Linked DNA regions of Homo sapiens: regions 2, 3 and 4 are each reported to be linked to region 1. Evidence: microRNA targets listed by miRTarBase, many of them from high-throughput screens and not tested one by one. Region 1 holds a microRNA gene; each other region holds the end of a gene's coding sequence.

The links. The annotated mature microRNA hsa-miR-6715b-5p reads ACAGGCACGACUGGUUUGGCA and lies in region 1 at 1,230-1,250, shown strand. An mRNA with a match to its seed (bases 2 to 7 or 8) in the 3' UTR can be bound and repressed. Matches are read on the target gene's strand: a 7mer-m8 pairs with bases 2 to 8, a 7mer-A1 pairs with bases 2 to 7 and ends in A, and an 8mer does both.
Region 2: miRTarBase lists TRMT5 as a target of hsa-miR-6715b-5p. The part of its 3' UTR that is shown has no 7-base or 8-base seed match.
Region 3: miRTarBase lists CSRP1 as a target of hsa-miR-6715b-5p. Seed matches in the 3' UTR shown: 7mer-A1 at 2,437-2,443.
Region 4: the mRNA of CES4A is a reported target of hsa-miR-6715b-5p. Seed matches in the 3' UTR shown: 7mer-m8 at 902-908 and 7mer-m8 at 1,166-1,172.

The regions. Positions count from the first base shown.
Region 1 is chr10:112,297,792-112,300,907 of GRCh38, reverse strand. MIR6715B (microRNA 6715b) reads left to right here and starts at 1,220; the gene lies at 1,220-1,296. TECTB (tectorin beta) reads right to left here. Exons shown (of 11, transcript NM_058222.3): 8 at 2,677-2,839; 9 at 1,344-1,416. It overlaps MIR6715A (microRNA 6715a), which reads right to left and starts at 1,296; the gene lies at 1,218-1,296.
Region 2 is chr14:60,972,640-60,975,755 of GRCh38, forward strand. TRMT5 (tRNA methyltransferase 5) reads right to left here. Exons shown (of 5, transcript NM_020810.3): 4 at 2,836-3,116; 5 at 1-2,555. The coding sequence ends at 2,470. It also overlaps the pseudogene RNU6-398P. Among named protein-coding and RNA genes, the nearest start is that of TRMT5, 6.9 kb to the right of the region's middle.
Region 3 is chr1:201,482,111-201,485,226 of GRCh38, forward strand. It overlaps CSRP1 (cysteine and glycine rich protein 1), which reads right to left. Exons shown (of 6, transcript NM_004078.3): 6 at 1,420-2,679. The coding sequence ends at 2,603. Among named protein-coding and RNA genes, the nearest start is that of PHLDA3, 14 kb to the left of the region's middle. RefSeq lists an enhancer at 878-1,207.
Region 4 is chr16:67,008,671-67,011,670 of GRCh38, forward strand. It overlaps CES4A (carboxylesterase 4A), which reads left to right. Exons shown (of 14, transcript NM_001364782.1): 14 at 304-1,747. The coding sequence ends at 472. Among named protein-coding and RNA genes, the nearest start is that of CBFB, 19 kb to the right of the region's middle.

The DNA of each region.
Region 1 (3,116 bases):
ACTTGGAGATTGTCAGCAGAGCTCTTCTGCAAGCCCTGTACTAGGTTGAATCCCTTTGCTCCATTCAGGATGAATATCCCTTATCCAAAATGCTTGGGACCAGAAGTGTTTCAGATTTCAGATTTTTTTTTGGATTTTGGAATCTTTGCATTATACTAGTTGAGCATCCCTAACTGGAAAACCTGGAATCTGAAATCTAAAATGCTACAATGAGCATTTCCTGTGAGCATGACCTTTGAGCATCATGTGGGTGCTCAAAAAGTTTCAGATTTGGGAGCATTCGGATTTTGGATTTTCACATTAGTGATGATCAACTGTGCAACCATGGCACCAGCCCACTGTCACCCTCCTTAACAGTAATTTCTCTTTCCCTTAGTGTCTAACATCTCTCTCCTTGCTAGACAGTAAATCCCTTGAGGACAGGGCCTGCTTGGGTCACATTTATTTCTGAAATCCTAGTGCCCTGCCAGGCCAGGCAGTGCTGGATACTCAGTAAAGGTTTTTTGACTTGCACATGACATTCTCATGACATCTCATTTTTCCTTCCTTCCTTCCTTCCTTCTTTCTTTTCTTTTCTTTTTTCTTTCTCTTTCTTTCTTTCTTTCTTTCTTTCTTTCTTTCTTTCTTTTCTTTCTTTCTTTCTTTCTTTCTTTCTTTCTTTCTTTCTTTCTTTCTTTATTTCTTTCTGTCTGTCTGTCTGTCTCTCTTTCTTTCTTCTTTTTCTTTCTTTCTTTTTTTTTTTTTTGAGACGGAGTTTCGCTCTTGTTGCCCAGGCTGGAGTACAATGGCGCGATCTCAGCTCACTGCAACCTCTGCCTCCCAGATTCAAGTGATTCTCCTGCCTTAGCCTCCCGAGTAGTTGGGATTACAGGCGTGCCCCACCAAGCCCAGGTAATTTTGTATTTTTAGTAGAGGTGGGGTTTCACCATGTTGGTCAGGCTGGTCTCAAACTCCTGACCTCAAGTGATCTGCCCACCTCGGCCTCCCAAAGTGCTGGGATTACAGGCGTGAGCCACCGAGCCCGGCCCCATGACATCTCATTTTCTATTATTATTGTTCACTGCATGCTCTGTTTGGAAGCTCAGCACTTCCTGATTCTTTGGGGGTATTTGAATTTAGGGTGCAGTTAGAACTTTCAGAGTAGATAACAAACCTCAACTCCTTCGTTTGGCTTGAGCTGTTCCCCACCCCTGGCTGGAAGACTCCAGGAGCAGGTGAAGGTTGTGCCCACAGGCACGACTGGTTTGGCAATTCAGTAAAAATGCTCAAACCGGCTGTGCCTGTGGACGCAGCCCAGCGTGAACTCAACCGTTTGGAAAACAGAGGAAAACAGAGACGCTTACTCCGCAGGGAGAGCTCCACGACCAGGACTCCCCCGGTCTGGTCTCGCAGGAGGCGCTTCCGTTTATCGCAGGTCTGAAGACCCAGAGAGGCAGACAGGAGAGAAGCGGGGAAGGTGGGATGATGCGTGAGCAAAGGGGAGAAAAGAGAAAGAAAAGATATTTTAAAAAGGTCACAAATGGGGTGGAGTCACAATTCCCCAGTCAACAGAGATGAGTTACCTTTTTAAAAAATAACCCAGAAGACACACTGTTCATCCCTTCTCCAACTTGAATACAAAGAGAAAGCTTTACTTTGTTAACTCTTCAAGCCAGAGGGAATCCTTCTGGAAGAGGTCATTGAGTGTGGAAGGGATTGATCCCATTTCCTTTGATAAGGCTTCTACTTACCACTCTCACCACAATAATTAGAGAAGTGGACACTTGCAATTGTATTCTGGTTCATTTTCTTTTCTTTCTTTTTAAAAATATGGCATTGATACTTATCCTTTGATCAACTGTACAGTGTCTCTCCCCTCCTCTCCCTGGCTCTGCACTCTCTGGTTTCTTTCCCTTTTGCTGTTTGTGCTCATAAAGAACCATTTTCTGGCCAAATGAAACAACAGCAATAGAGATTATGACCTTATTTTTGTTGGTTACTATAGGCTATGTGGATAGCAGCCTCTTTGGAAACACCGAGGTCTCCAGTTGAAAGAGACCAGAAAGGAGAACAGTTTGAGATTTGGCATGTCTAAGTGTCTAAGTGGTGGTTCTCAGGCTTGAGTGAGCACCGGCATGACTGCTGGCTTGTTAAAGCACAGCCTGCCCAGGCCTTCCTCTCACGTGGTCAAATCAGCCATGATCCAGTGTCGGGAATTTCTGCAGCATCTCTCTGAAGTCACAGAGGTGAACCCTCGGGCTGTTCAGTCAAGACTAAAAACACCCACCTTTTGAGTTATTTCCACGGCCTGTCCCTGCCACCTAGACCTTGAATTTCCCTTGCCCTTTTCACTTCTTCCAAGTATTTCCAAGTCTGTTATCACTTTCATTTACCTACACTGCCCTCTGATGAGGGAAGGGCCATCATTACTTAACACACTTTGCTTAAGGATGAGAAAGCAGGTCCCAGCAGGTTAGGCGACACATGCCAGACCATGTGGGTTGTTGGAGGCAGGGCAGATAGGGCCCTGAGCATCTGCCCTCACGAGCATCTGCCCTTATACTCAGTGCCATTTCCTCCAGATGTCCTCAGCACACAGCTGCCCTGGCCTGGTTATGATCTCCCCACTCAAACTCCAGCTCCTCCAATACTGGCACCCTTTAGGTAACATTGTCCTTCTGGAGAGAGGCAGCTCACCACTGGGCAGGAGAGTTTCTCACTGTCGCAGATGAACGTCTCACAGTGTAACCACACCTTGGAGAGTTTGGGGATGTTCTGGAACCGGAAAGCATTGAATTGGAAGGTTGCCCTGTGATCTCTCCCATTCTCATGCACGAGGACGGTTTCATCCGTGGGGCAGCTGAGGCAGATGGGGAAAGAAGAGTGAACTGTCATCTCCTTGAACTCCAGCAAGAGCTGCTGAGCGATTTACACACAAGGCTCCCGAGGTGGTTATATGACCTCTAACCTTCCCAGGCATTTTGATTAGCAGCACCTCACTTGATCTTCACAACTGTGAGGTCAAGTTGATGAGCTAGGAGATGGGTATTACTGTCCTCATTCTATAGACAAGGTACGATGGGAGGGGAGTGACTTATAAGAGTCACACTTTTAGTAAGTTACACCTGTGTCCCAAA
Region 2 (3,116 bases), not on the chromosome of region 1:
AATAACATTGCCTCTAATCAGGGTTCTAAGTAAGTGTTCCCTGTGATCAAAATCAGTTGTAAATGATTGCCTATTAATGGTTATCATTAACCATCATTAACCATTAATACTAATGGTAATAAGATTTTACACATTTCATCTTTAAAAATGTCTTCTCATACAGATAGGTATTGCCAAATACTGCTATCAATCCAGGAGCATATGAAATTAACTGAGCATATTCATCACTTGGAAAGCATTTGTAAAATTCTTTTACATTTCTTCCCTTGAAATTTGCCTTTTAGCATGTCATTATTTTAATCACTTCTTACTGAAAATTAGGTTGAATCACCTCAATTGCAGTTAAATAGATTTTGAAACAGGGAAATTTCCTTTGCACTTGCACCTAGGTCCCTAAAAATGCTGAACTCAGAAAATATACTCACTAAAATTTGTGGGAATGGAAATCTTGTTTCTTTCTCTTTGATAGTATGACAAATGTGTAAGGATATTGTCATCAAATATTGTGATTCAAATATCGATTGTCAAAATGACTGTACCATATCAAAGTTGTTTTGCCTTGTGTTTTAGGCCATTCTTGCATTGCTATAAAGAAATACTTGATACTGGGTAATTTATAAGAAAAGAGGTATAATTGGCTCACAGTTCTCCAGGCTATAGGAAGCATAGCACTGGCATCTGCTTCTGGGGAAGCCTCAGGAAGCTTTTACTCATGGTAGAAGGCAAAATAGGAGAAGGCACTTCACATGGCGAAGGCAGGAGCAAGAGAGTGTGGGGGGCGAGTGCCACATACTTTGAAACAACAAGATCTCATAACTCATTATCTTAAGGACACCACCAAGGGGATAGTGCTAAACCATTCACGAGGGCCACATATAAGGGCTCACACCTGTAACCTTCACACATTGGGAAGCCGAGATGGGAAGATCTCAAGCCTAGGAGTTCAAGGTTACATTGAGGTGTAACTGTGTCTCTACACTCCAGCCTGGGCAACAGAGCAAGACCCTGTCTCTAAGTAAAAATAAAAATAGAGTCAAAGAACCATCCAGAATCATTTCCTTTTTAAAGTGACTATTTATGTCGCTTTCAATGTCCTTAACTCTTTAAGCAACTGTTCTTGCCAAAGGCCAGTAATCTTAAGTTTATTTTCTCTGGATATATTCAGCTGCTGCATCCAAACATAATTAATTCACACCATCAATAAATGGCTTTGCTTGGCTAACAAATGATTGACTTAGAGACTTACTGTTGTTGCAGCCTCATTTTCATTTTGTGAAGAAATTCTGCTTTGTTATTTCCATTTTAAATTTTCTAATTTTTCTAACAGTTGCTTGCCTGTGAGTTGGGAATACTGTGATGAGTGGTTTGTCTGGTAATGTCAATGGTTATTCTTTTAGCTTAGCTATATAGATGCTTTGTCGTCTAATTCAACATCAAAATAATTCACACCCTACTGTACTTTAAAAATAACAACAAAGTCCACTTTTCTTGTTTTGCTATAATAGATATGCTCTGGTAATAAAAAATAAAATGTGGGTTCATGTGATATACATGGCACTCAAAATGCTGTCGTTACAACCACATCAGTGATTTGTGATGTGTCAAACAGCAGTGTGAAGTGATGACAGTCACATTCAGTGTGTGTTGCAACCACTCAACTCTGCTATTGTTCAAGAAAGCAGCTGCAGTCCTCACTTCAGCAGCACATATACTAAAAAACTGGAATGGTACAGAGAAGATCAGAATGGTCCCTGCGCAAGGATGACATGCAAATTCGTGAAGCGTTCCATATTAAAAACAAAAAACAGCTGCAGATGATATGTAAACAAATGAGCATGGTATGTTCCAATCAAACTTTATGAACTCTGAAACTCTTAATTTCATACAATTCTAATTTTTAAAACTGATACATAATAGATGTCATAAAATTTTCACGTCACAAAATGTTCTTTTGATTATTTTTCAACCAATGGAAAACGTAAGAACATTATTAGGCCACAGGCCATATGAAAACAGGTGGTGGGACAGATTTGGCCTGCAGGATGTAGTTTGCCTGCCCCGTTCTAAATAATTTCATTTTTTATTACTTTTATGGTGATAGTTAATTGGCAGTAAAGGAGTAGTTACGTAAAGGACAACTACAAAGTGGTGTTAATACCTTCCTAGTTAGTACTCAATCACCCTACTTTCAAAAATTATTTTCCCTGAGAGAAAATATTTATTCATATTTATCCAATAAAAATTAGATATATTTTGTTATAAAATAATTGTATGTTATAATTTAGATAACAGGGAATGTATTTGGTAGCCTTAGTTCAGTTAAAGTTTAATTGGTAATCCTCAATTTGTAAAATAAGGCAAAGTACAAGGGTTCAATAGTAAAAACCAAACCCTAAAATTTTATTAAATAATACAAATTCTATTTCACTACATGTAAGTCTGGTAGGGAGATGGAGAAAACATTTCCAATTAAGTGTTTGAAACAATTTGTGTTTTTTCGTCTGAAAAGGCTTCAGCCGTCCTCTGCCTTTTAAGAGGTGGATCTTCATGATTCTCTGTAATAAATCCAGAAAACCTATTTTAGGTAAGATATTAACAGTTGAAAATACTCTTAAAAAAACAAACAATATAGGCATTTTTAATCTAGTCAACTTAAACATGAAATAACATTCTTGCAGATTTACTATTTTAATGAAATAGCCTTCTATTAGACTGAACTAACACAGTAGCTTTCTATTAGACTGAACTAATACTGCATTAAAATTTGTAAAACTGGGAGGAATTAGTTACAATTGAATGGCAAGGTTTACATTTAATTTCCCAGAAACTGCTCACCTGGATTTCTGGTCTGGTTCTTGTAGAGGACAGAGGCAGGAATCTGAAACGTGATGCACAGCATTTCCTTGTTTGGGGCCACATTTCTTACCAGGTGAACTGAACTGCATGCCTCCAGAGAAATGCCTAACACAGCTCCAGCCCTTTGCCGAACATCCTCAGCAGGGTTAGCATCTTTGGAAAAGCTATAACAATGCACTATGGGAAGGAACTCACTGCTGCATGGCTGCCCATCTAAAAGCCACTTGAAAGCACTAAGAAACTCTATAGCTTTTGCTGGC
Region 3 (3,116 bases), not on the chromosome of region 1:
AGGTCTTATTCCCAGGAGGTGCGTCAGGGCCCCTTGCCCACCGTGGGGCTGCACTGAAAAACAGTGGCCCGGGAGCAAGACAGCTAGTGGTGCAAGGCACAGGACGGTCGCCGACAGGCCCTCCCGATCAGCCAGCAGAGGGCAGCCTCTCTCCAGCTTTGGGCCCCAAAGGCTCCCATCCGGGCCACTCCTGTAGGCCCCTCCCAGACAGAAGGGTCCACCTGGGTGTGTGGAACCAGCCGTCCTCCTGGCTGCGGAAACTTGTCCGGAGCACCTTTCGTGGGCCACCCCCTGTGCTGGAGCCAGAGGGGTTACCAAGATGGAGCCCTTGACCCCGATTGCAGAACTCCCAGCCAGAGCCCACCCTGGGCTGGCATTCCCTGAACTCCTCCAGCTCTTCTCCCGGTCATCTTGTACTTTTCTATTGCTCTGCACCATTGATGGGTGTTATGCATGCATAGGTGCCTTTCTCAGAGTCCAGGAGGGGCCTCTGTCAAGGCCACTGTTGGAGCTGGTCATCTGGGAAATAGGTACACGAGGCCTTGTTGTTATTAAAGCATCTGCTTTTGTTTTGAAAACTTAGTGTGGGCACATTTTCGAGAAGGGCTGAAGCAAAGCAGCACAGCCCCAACGCATCAGGCAGGTATGCCTAAGATGAAGGATGCCGCAACCCCTCACATGAACCTATTTCCAAAAAAAAATGTGGCCTTCCACGGACTTGCTGTGGGGGCCCTAACAGCACAGCAGGCTGAGCCAGGCCCCTCCACCACACCCCTCCTAGGTAGAAGTGAGCTTTCTAGATTTGACGTGAAAGTTCCTCTGGTTGAGTTTCCCTCTTAGGCTGGGGCTTTCCGAGCTGGGAGAAGTTCTGAGCACAGTTTTGGGGCCTAGCTGAGCCCCTCCAAGTCCAAAGTCCATGCAATTCCCAGGCCCAGATTTGGGGGTGGAGACCAGACAGGACAAGCCAGTGGTGTTTGGCTGGTCGGGTCACTTCAGACAGTGTGGTTCAGTTGGCATTGATACTGAGAAGTAATTGGTCCTTAGAAAAAGCAGGAACGAATCCACTTTGATTCATTTCCACCAGGCTGCCTGCTTTTTTTTTGAGACAGAGTTTCACATTTGTTGCCTAGGCTGGAGTACAATGGTGTGATCTCAGCTCACTGCAACCTCTGCCTCCCGGGTTCAAGCGATTCTCCTGCCTCAGCCTCCCAAGTAGCTGGGATTACAGGCACCCACCACCATGCCTGGCTCATTTTTTGTATTTTTAGTTGAGTCAGAATTTCACCATGTTAGCCAGGCTGGTCTCAAACTCCTGACCTCAGGTGATCCGCCTGCCTCGGCCTCCCAAAGCCCCTGCTAATTTGATTGCTCCCATTGAGTTCCCTCCCAGCTCCACAGACACAGGATTGGACACCAGAGTTCTGGTCTAAACAGCTTTATTGACCAGATGAGAAATCAGCTTGGGTACAGCCCATGCCTGCAGCCCTTTCAGTGGGTGGCTCCAGATAGTGTTGTCCTTTCAGTTGCTGGGAGCGGTGAGGCCCAGCCCTTTCCCCTTCCTCCCACCACTATTCCTAACCTGGGGCCTGGCAGGGGTGGAGTGATGTGATCTAAGGGTCCCTGGAGAAGGGTGGAGTGGAAGAGGCAGGGTCTTGGGTTAAAGGGAAGATTCTGAGGTCTCAGGGCAAAGGGAAAGGTGTTTGGATGAAGACTGAGGCAGTGCCTACCTCCCTCCACATCTGAGGATCAAGCAGGTGTGGCAAGAACAGAGCCCTGGCCTGGGCTCTGCTGGCCGCAGCCTCAGGAGCCAGGGTTAAGGCCAGAGATAAATGAAGATTTGAGCCATTGATAAATGCCAATATATGTTTCAGGTATTTCATTAGGATCCTCCCATCAAGCAGGGAACTAGATGTTTGAGAAGATCAAACAACATCCTGACTTTGGGGTCCTTAAGACCTGGGTTATTCTCCTCCCAGTCCTAGTGGGAGGCTATCCATTCCACAAAGACTCAAAGGCAAGAGGCCTGGAGAAGCAGGGGCTCCTAGGACCCTGCCTGCATGCCTCTCTGCCTCCAATAGTGACTCCCTAAGCTGGGACTCCTCAGGCTTACTCTGAGGGACACCAGGAAGCTCAACCTCTTTCCCACAGAGGAGAATCTCTGAGATCCAAAAAACCCAGCCTTCCCCCCTCCTCATCTTGGTCTTGCTTCCCTCTCCCTCCAGCCTGTTGCTGCTGCTCCTCTGGGTGCCAAGATGTGTCCTCAGGTGTCTTGGTCAGCTGATGATGGACACGCAGCACAGGAGGCTAAGAACAGAGCTCTGTGGGGCGAGGTGTGGGGAGAGGGGCCTGCTCTCACCTAGACCCAAAACACTGAGGTCTCCTACTGGTGATGGTGTCAGATCCCAGGCCTGGGGAGCCCTTTAGTGGGGTGGGACCTCAGGCAGACCCCCAAACCAAAGGGAGCCAGATGCCCAAGTTCAAGTCATTAGTGATATGTGGCAGGGCTGACAGAGAAATAATCCTGGAGGTCTCCAAAGCTGCTGGGAATGGAATGGCGATGAAAAGCGCAGGAGTGGGCAGGGTGTGGTGGGTGATGGTGGCCTCACTCAGAGTGGACCAAGGCCCCAGCTCCTTGCCCAAAACCAAAGCCCTTGGGCCCGAAGTTTTTAGCATAACATCCTGCAGAGAGAGGAGAGAGATAAGGGCATGTTCTTCCTCCACCCCCAGCCACACCACCCACCCTCCTGCTGAAGATCCCCCACTCCTAGTGCCCAGCCAGACTGCTAGGGAAGGAAGGTCCACTGGTACCCCCTCACCTCCACAGCACCCCAATCTCAATAGTAAAATAGCGAAGAGGCTCTTGGTTGTACCCTGTACCCATTGCCCCTGCCACCAAAATTATAGAAGCATCATCTGCTGTAAGAACATTGGACTGGGAGTTAGGAAGCCAGGGTCTAGCCCTATGCCTGCCTCAATTTGCCAGATGATGCTGGCCAAGTTGCTTTCCCCCTCTGGTCTTGTTTCCTCATCTGTACAATGAAGGAATCATACTAGATGTTCAGATCTTGGATCCCAAGGCCAGGAATTAGTTTACATTCAGCAAAGGCAAAACTACT
Region 4 (3,000 bases), not on the chromosome of region 1:
ATTACAGGCATGAGCCACCAGGCCTGGCCACACACACACTCTGTTTTTACCTAACTCTTGACTTGTGCTTCCTCCAAAAGCCTTGGTCTTTTATATCTCTCAACCTGGCACATACTGTTTGCTCTGCCTGGAAGGCCCACCCCAATACACACTTTCCTACTCTTTATTAAAGTTCTAAGTATCATCTCCGTAAAGCCCTCTGGAACCCCAAGTCCCAAGGGCAAATTAAACGAGGGAAGGGTGAAAGAAAGAAGCAGGATGAAAAGGAACACAGGTAATCCTCTCTTTTTTATTTCTGGGCAGAAACCCCAATGATGGGAATCTGCCCTGCTGGCCACGCTACAACAAGGATGAAAAGTACCTGCAGCTGGATTTTACCACAAGAGTGGGCATGAAGCTCAAGGAGAAGAAGATGGCTTTTTGGATGAGTCTGTACCAGTCTCAAAGACCTGAGAAGCAGAGGCAATTCTAAGGGTGGCTATGCAGGAAGGAGCCAAAGAGGGGTTTGCCCCCACCATCCAGGCCCTGGGGAGACTAGCCATGGACATACCTGGGGACAAGAGTTCTACCCACCCCAGTTTAGAACTGCAGGAGCTCCCTGCTGCCTCCAGGCCAAAGCTAGAGCTTTTGCCTGTTGTGTGGGACCTGCACTGCCCTTTCCAGCCTGACATCCCATGATGCCCCTCTACTTCACTGTTGACATCCAGTTAGGCCAGGCCCTGTCAACACCACACTGTGCTCAGCTCTCCAGCCTCAGGACAACCTCTTTTTTTCCCTTCTTCAAATCCTCCCACCCTTCAATGTCTCCTTGTGACTCCTTCTTATGGGAGGTCGACCCAGACTGCCACTGCCCCTGTCACTGCACCCAGCTTGGCATTTACCATCCATCCTGCTCAACCTTGTGCCTGTCTGTTCACATTGGCCTGGAGGCCTAGGGCAGGTTGTGACATGGAGCAAACTTTTGGTAGTTTGGGATCTTCTCTCCCACCCACACTTATCTCCCCCAGGGCCACTCCAAAGTCTATACACAGGGGTGGTCTCTTCAATAAAGAAGTGTTGATTAGACCTGAATTTCTCCACCTATAAAATGGGTGTGTGAAGTGAATGATGTCTCAATTTGAGCCCTGAGAGAAAGGAAGTATTGCTGCCTGTTCCTTAGTGGGCTGTGCCTGGATGCTACACTCAGTCAAAGGGTGCTACTGCAAAGTTGCCTGGGGTACAAAACACTTGCCTTTTGCCTTCATGGTCTCAAGTGCACCCCTCAGGACAGCCACACCCCACGCTCACTTGTCCATCAGTTTAGGTCTTAGTGCCACATCTAGATTCCTCTGGCCTCTCCTGCAGCCCGTGTGTATCCCAGCCTGTCCCACAGTTTTGTTTCGTTGTTTTGTGGGGTTTTTTTTTTTTTTTTTGAGACGGAGTTTTGCTCTTGTCACCCAGGCTGGAGTGCAATGATGAAATCTCAGCTCACTGCAGCCTCAGTCTCCCGAGTTCAAGCGATTCTCCTGCCTCAGCCTCCCAAGTAGCTGAGATTACAGATGCCCACCACCATGCCCGGCTTATTTTTGTATTTTTAGTAGAGATAGGGTTTCATCATGTCAGCCAGGCTGGTCTCAAACTCCTGACCTCAGGTAATCCACCCGTCTCAGCCTGCTGAAGTGCTGGAATTACAGGCATGAGCCACCATGCCTGGCCACTGTGGGCTTTTTGGTGGTAAAATACACACGACAAATTTTACCATTTTAACTATTTTTGTTTTTTGTTTTGTTTTTTGTGGTTTTTTTTTTTTTTTTTTTTTTGAGATGGAGTCTCGCTCTGTCGCCCAGGCTGGAGTGCAGTGGCACGTTCTCGGCTCACTGTGATCTCTGCCTCCCGGGTTCACGCCATTCTCCTGCCTCAGCCTCTCGAATAGCTGGGACCACAGGTGCCCGCCACAACACCCAGCTAATGTTTTTTTTTTTGTACTTTTAGTAGACGGGGTTTCACCATGTTAGCGAGGACGGTCTCGATCTCCTGACCTCGTGATCCACCCACCTCGGCCTCCCAAAGTGCTGGGATTACAGGCGTGAGCTACCGCGCCCAGCCCATTTTAACTATTTTTAAATGTACAGTTCAATATCATTAAGTACATTCACATCATTGCACAACCATCACCACTATTCTGTCTTTAGAACTTTTTCATCATTTAAACTGAAACTCTGTACCCATTCAACAATGACTTGCTGTTACCCCCTCTTCCTAGCCCCCGGTAACCCCTATTCTGCTTTCTGTCTCTATGAACTTGACTCTTCCAGGTGCCTGATATAAGTACAGTAATGCAGTATTTGTCCTTTTGTGTCTGGCTTATTTCACTTCACATGATGTCTTCAAGTTTCATCCATGCTGTAGCATCTATCAGAATTTCCTTCCATTTTAAGGCTGGATAATATTCCATCGCAAGTATATAACACATTTTGTTTATCCATCCATCCAGTGATGGGCATTTGGGTTCTTTCCACCTTTAGGCTATTGTGAATAATGCTGCTATGAACACTGGCATAGTGTCCCACAGTATTTTTGTCCCAAACTAGTGTTGATTAGGCCCTTTATTCCCAGAGGTTCCTGAGTCTCTGGGGCAAATGGAAGCTGCACAGATCTGTGGGATGAGGCACATCTAATTCCCCATACCCCAGGATCTAACCCCCAAAGCAAAGGGATGGTGGAGGAGGGCGGAAGCCCCTCCCAAGCAAACATTAATCCTCACAACAACTGTGGATCTTATTATCCCCATTTTACAGATGAAGAAACTGAGGCATTGAGACATTAAAAAGCCTTGCCCAAGGGCCTGAGCTGGTGGAGGCAGAGCAGGAGTTGGATCCAGGCCTGTCTGAGGCATCCTGCCACCTCCATCCAGACCTGGAGCAATCCCTGAGAAGGGTGGCTACCACCAGAGATGTGGCAGCTCTGGTCTCAGGAAGCATAGCCGGAGGATGTCCCAGGCAACCAAACAGCCATTCATCA